2 separate regions of the Homo sapiens genome follow, and region 1 is linked to region 2. The links come from fine-mapping of genetic effects on gene expression. Tissue or cell type: whole blood. Region 2 holds a variant in brackets; the other region holds the start of a gene. All regions are shown on one strand. Distances are from middle to middle.

Region 1 (2,887 bases), 23 kb before region 2:
CCTGCCGATGCAGTGCCTGGACGGGTGGGTGAGCGGAATGGCTGCAACCTGGAGGCGAGACCCTACCACCATGAGGGGAGCCGTTTCAGGATGGCCTCAGGATGGAGGCCGCATGGTGAGAACCGCAGGGCTCTGCCATGTGCCACTCTGCAAGGGGGACTTGGGGGCCCTTAGGGACCCCCAGGGAGGAGGCGTGGGGAAGACACAGGCATGGCCTGTTCATCTCCATGGCGCTGGGCCTGATCTGGTTTTAGCCCTGCCCATCGTCTGGGCCACGGATCCCTCTGGTGCCTCCACTCGTGGGGCTCTGAAAGCCTCTGCTGGTCTTTGTGGTGTGTTTGGTGGGTGGGGGGCTCGCTGAGTCCCAAGGAGGCGGCCTCCGGTTCGGCCCCACCCTGATGGGTCAACACTCTGGGCCCAGGGCCCTCCCAACCCCTGGCCTCTCTCCAGCCCCTCTTTGCCTTGGGACCCCCTGTAAGTCCTTGCTGGTTGGATTTCTCAGGCCCAGCCGCTGGCCAGGGCTCCCTTCTCCCATTCTCCTGCGCTGAGGTTTCCAGCAGGGAAGCCTTCGCCACCTCTGTGGCTGCCCTACTCTGGCCCAGCTTAAGTCCTCCCCTGCCTCAGCTTTTGGGGTCTGGCTCCTGCAGTCATGCATCCCTCCTCCTGACCCTGGAGCCACTGCGTGGTCACTCCCAGAAGCTGGGGACAGTGAGGGCTGGAAACAGCCTCCATCCCTCCCCTCGGGCTGGCCTATGCCTCTTGGGAGGGTCCCTGAGGCACTGCCTTTAGAGCCTGGGGACACGAACCACTCGGTGGTCAACTCCAGCGACCAGAGCACGGAGAGCAAGGGGCAGCGGGGGGACGAGGCGGATGCCCGACAGCTCGGCATCAGCAAGGCAGTCCAAGACAGAACAAGGCACCCGACGGGTAGAACGCAGGGGCATCCCGGGCACAGCCCCCAAAGCCACCTGGGACCCACAGCTGTTTGATGTGCTCAAGGCTATGACCCCAGGCTTCGAGAAAAGACTCCACCAAGTTCCATGAGCACCTGTAGGAGAGCCGGCCTCTGGGTAGATTTCACCCAAAGAAGCTAAAACGCTCACGTGGTGCTTATGGGATCACAGACGTGTTTGTCCCTGATGCTGCAGGAGAACTGGCCACTCACAGGTGGACCTGATGGCCAGAGCTACTAGCGGGGACCAGGGGTAACATGGGTCCCCCTCCCCGAGCCATGAAGAGCTGCCTGCGGCCATCTTGGCCCTCGCACCCCGTCTCTGTCACCCCAGGCCCCTGTAACTTGCTTAACGCTTCCTGAGGGGTGGTTTGGGTTTTTTTTTTTTTCTTCCTCTCCTCTTGTAGCAACAGATTAAAAAACAACACCCTGACCCAAGCCGAGACAGGTTCCAAACCTCAACCTGCAGCCGGAAGGGGGAAGTGAAACTCGGCTGGGGGTGGGGGCTCAGAAGCCGCCCCAGAAAGCACTGAAAGCCACAGCACGTACACCCACTCCAGGGATCTGCCAGCACCCTGTGGGGCCCAGACTACAGGCTGATGGCGGAGGCTTCGAGTGACCCGGGTGCCGAGGAGCGGGAAGAGTTGCTGGGGTAAGGGTCTGCGGCGACGCCCGGCGCCCTGTGCCGTGTCCACGGGTGCATAGTCCTTGAGCTGCATGGAGGGTGGAGAACTGAGGTGCCTGATGGGGAATCTGGGGCCCCCAATGGGAGAACTTGGATGTCCGATGGGGAAACTGGGGACCCACAGACAGGTGGCAGGAAGTCTTGCTGGGACCCCCCTCTCACAACAAGGGTGGAGGTCTCTTCCGCCTGCCTCTGTGCCCTGGACTCACTGGGGGAGGCGCGTGGGATCCTAAGCCCATGGTGGATGCCTGAAGCGAGGAGACCCCAAGACGTGTCCTGGACTGCCAGGGAGGAGCTGGGGACTGTGGGCCCTGTTAGCTTGGGAAGAGGCAAGGTGGGGGCTGGGGAGCAGCTGTTCTGGGATGGGTGGAACTGGCCCGGGCCTGGCCACCTGCCCACAGGACTATCTGAGAGGGGCTATCCTGCCTTGAGGGTCTGGAGGCCGCCAGGCTTGGGGCCCAGCAGGCCTCAGGGCAGGGCACCCAAAGCTGCCCTTGACCTGCGGTAAAGGACAAGGCCAAGGATTCTGGCAGGTGCCTGTGCTGGGTGCCAGGCACCGTGTGTTGGTTGGAGTGGGGACATGAGGGGGCATGGCAGAGGTTGTGTGTAGGACTGCCAGAGCTGGGCAGAAAAACCCCGCTGCCAAAGGCCTCCTAGCGGGCAGCTGTACTCTGTGGTACCAATGGGCATCCAGCCCTGTGCTGGGGTGGGTGGAGAGGGCTAGCGGCTTAGTAACTGGGCTCCCTGGCAGAGGGGAGCTGCCGGCCAGCAGGCATCCAGGCATCACAGCTGAGCCTCGCCAGGGGAACCCGAGTTGCCCCCGGTGCAGGTCCCAGAAGAGATGGGAGGGCTCAGGGCGTGCGGTGCAGGGACAGGTAGGGCTTTGAGGGGCAGAGGGGCGACGTGCTAATGGTCAGGGGATGGGGATCCGGTGCTGGGGATAGAGGCCGGCCTAGGAGCAGGTCAGCGGGGGCTGTGGCCTGGTGTGCGGAAGGGAAGGCGCTGGGGCCCAGGTTGCAGAAAGAGTGTGATGCCCGCAGCCACACAGGACGGACCTGAGAGGAGGCCCAGGGTGACGCTCACATACCCCAAAACTGCAGCCAGGGCTGCTACCAGTCTCTGCCTTGGTGCTGACAGCAGAGGGTCCCGGTCTACCCGACCCGGGGCGGTGCAGGGACCACCTCCCGGCCTTCACACAAAGCTCCTGTGCTGTTGGTGGCTGCAGTCACTGTCCTGTGTCTGTGTCCTTG
Region 2 (2,891 bases):
TCCCGGGAGCGAGACCTCAGGCCCAGTCTTCACTCCCCAGCTGTGAAATGGGTGAGAACAGAGGGTGGCTGAGACTCAGGGCTGTTCAGGGTGGGGTGGGCTCTGGACCCAGCAGGCCCGGCACCCAGGCCAGGGCTCCAGGGGAGGCCAGGTGGGGCGAAGGCCAAGAAGGGGCCGGGGCTGGTCAGAAAGGGCTCCTGGTGACCAGAGCACTTTGCCTGAGCCAGCGTGGGAGGGAGGTGGGCTGGATGAGCCAGGGAGGCGCCGGGAGGGGCCTTGGCAGAGGCGACTCCCTCCGGCAGCCCCCAGGCCACTGAACCCTGGGTAGTGAGAACCGGCAGGGGAGGCTGCAGACGGAGGAGTGGAGGCTCCTTGGCTTTGGGGGCTCTGAGTAGAAGCACCTAGGGGGTCCCTCAAGAGGTCCCCAAATGCTGCCCCATGGTGAGGAAACAAGGAGAGGCCCGGCAGGGCCCCCCTTGGTTACAAAGGGCTGCCACTGTGAGAAGGCAACACTGCCGGCTGGGGCTGGGCTTTCTACCTCACCAAGCCTCTTCCCACCCAAAGGGCCCAGAGAGGGGCAGCTGCCCCCCACAGCGGGCACAGCACCTCCTCCCTGTGTGATGGGGTGGGGCCCACAGTCTCCTTTCTCGCGGCCTCCCTGGGCTGACCCTGGGTCCCAGCTCGGCCATGGGGGCTTCGGCATGTAAAGCCCATGGGGGGCAGAGCCTCCGGCCCCTGCCAGCTTCTGGCTGTCTGTGTCGCCCCCAGCACTGGGCTGGTGCCGTGGAGGGAGGCTCCGCCCTCCCCCCCATCAACCCGCTGAGGAGTTCTGTCTTCCCAGGGTTGTGAGGGAAGCCAGCTCTGCAGGCCGATGTCCAAGTCCAGGCGCTGCCTCCTCCAGGGAGCCTTCCAGACCTGATCTGTGCAGCAGAGGCCCAGAAGGACCTGGGTGTGGGGATCCTAACAGGAGGCGGGGGACCCAGCGCGTGCAGAGAGGGTCCCAGTGCTTCCTCCTGAGTGAGGGTCACCCATCCGGCTCCAGCTGCACAGAGCCACTCCCTCTGAGCAATCCTGCTCTCTGCCTTCCTGCATTAGCTCTTGCCTGCACCCAGTCCAGCAAATCCCTGCTCATCTTTCAGACCCAAGTTCAAGGCCTCCTCCTGCTCCGGGCGGCTCATCACTCGGCCTCCCCAGGCAGAGAGGCTAGGGTCCTGCTCACTGCGGCGTCTCCCTTGCCCACTGGCGTGGGACTACAAGGAAAGGGGTTGACCCCCACCCTCCCCTGCCATGCCCAGCAGGGTGCAGCCACAACC[G/A]GGAAGGTGCTAGAGGCCCCGGGGGGGAGGCTGGGCCAGCACCAGGCGTTGGGGGGCAGGTTCCCGTCTCTACGCCCGAGCCCCAGGCGGACGGCGCATGCCCCTCCCGCTGCCCCACCTGTCACCCACCTGCTGGCCCCGGGCTGTCTCTGCTCCTGGCTCCCCTCCCAGCTGCGTCCCCAGCTGCCTCTCCAGGGAGGAGTGACAGCTGGCCTGTGCCACACCCTCGAGCCCCTCCCTGGACTGCCCCCTCCCTGGGGCAGGACCCCTGCGTGTGGCACAACCAAGGGGCCTGCTGATGGGGGCTCATGTGAGCAGTGCCCCAGCTGTGGGTGTGGGTGCTGCCAGCTGCCACCGCCTTTGCCCTGGCTTCCCAGATAGGCCCCGACACACACTCCGAAGCTGTATCATGAACGCTGTGGTGGGCGGCTGGCGGGGAGCGGGGTTGCTGTCCCACTACCCTCTGGAAGCCTCAGCCACGGAGGGCCCCTGTGGGCACCTTTTCCCGGCACACGGTGCTGTGTCTCTCCACTCTTGGGCTCTGCAGTGACTTGAGGGGTCAAGTCTAGGACCCCAGGGGAGGCTGGGCTCATGAGGGGACCAGAGACCTCAGTGCTGTGCAGGGAGCCCCGAACCACCCTGGTGGAAGGCCCAGCCCAGCTCCCCAGGCCTCCTGCCAGCTCCCTGTGGTGTCCAAGGGACCTGTGGTCAGGCCTGGAGGAGAAGCTCCCCCTCCCCTCGACATCCTCCCCGCAGCCCTTGCTCTTCACCAGAGCCTCCTCACTCCCCAGGACCCCAGAGAGGACGGACCCTCTCCAGCCGCCCTCTGGGCTCAGGACAGCCGGGTGGGGCAGCCACAGGAGCTGCCTGCAGGGGGCAGAGTCGGGACGGGGACCGAGCCGGACACCCATTCTGCAAGTGTCTGCAGGGGGAGGACGGAGGTGGGTAGCTGGGAGTGCTGGGCCGAGGATGGGCATTGTCAGGCCCTCAGCGGGGACTGGGAGGTAGAAGTGGGGGTGGGGGTTTGTGGAGGAAGGAGAAGAAGGGCCAGCGTCCCGAGTCGGGGGGTGCTTGGCAGTGGATGAGGCCGGCAGGAACAGACCTGAGCTTGGGGAGCTCCACTCCGAACGAGGCATCCGTCAGAGTTCTGTGCATACTGGTGTCCCTGGCTGGGGGCCAGGCCCCGAAGTGGAGCCTGGGACTGTGAGGGTGCGGGGGTGTGCTGGGGTGGGAGGTGGATGGAGCCCCCCCACCGCCTGGCCCCTTGGGCTGAACCTTGGGCTTCGGAGCCAGAACAGACACAGGAAATCGCCTAATTGCATTTGTGCAGGAACACCAAATCCCTCGCAGCTGCACGGGGCTGAGCCAGGGCCACGGGCGGGGTCGGCCATCCCAGAGTCCTGACAGCTCCGTGGTGCATGCCAAGGGGCCTGGGCCGCTGGCCGGGGGGCGCCTTTCCCAGGCCAGAGGCCCCCACCCCACCCCAGGAGAGCTGCCCCCCTTTCAGTTCCCAGAACGGAGCCCAGCTGTGGAATAGTGAGGGGGTGAGGTCATGGGGAGGGGGCCCGCATGACTCAT

The links.
Region 1: it holds the start of LSP1, and the variant in region 2 is fine-mapped to the expression of LSP1 in whole blood (INTERVAL, PIP 0.93).

What each region holds. Positions count from the first base shown.
Region 1 is chr11:1,851,594-1,854,480 of GRCh38, forward strand. It overlaps LSP1 (lymphocyte specific protein 1), which reads left to right and starts at 1,491. Exons shown (of 11, transcript NM_002339.3): 1 at 1,491-1,604. The coding sequence starts at 1,552. RefSeq lists enhancers at 222-271, 1,263-1,582.
Region 2 is chr11:1,874,392-1,877,282 of GRCh38, forward strand. The region is part of intron 1 of LSP1 (lymphocyte specific protein 1); the gene reads left to right. Among named protein-coding and RNA genes, the nearest start is that of MIR7847, 4.2 kb to the right of the region's middle. RefSeq lists enhancers at 1,156-2,052, 2,053-2,891. The variant G/A (reference allele first, on the strand shown) is at 1,314.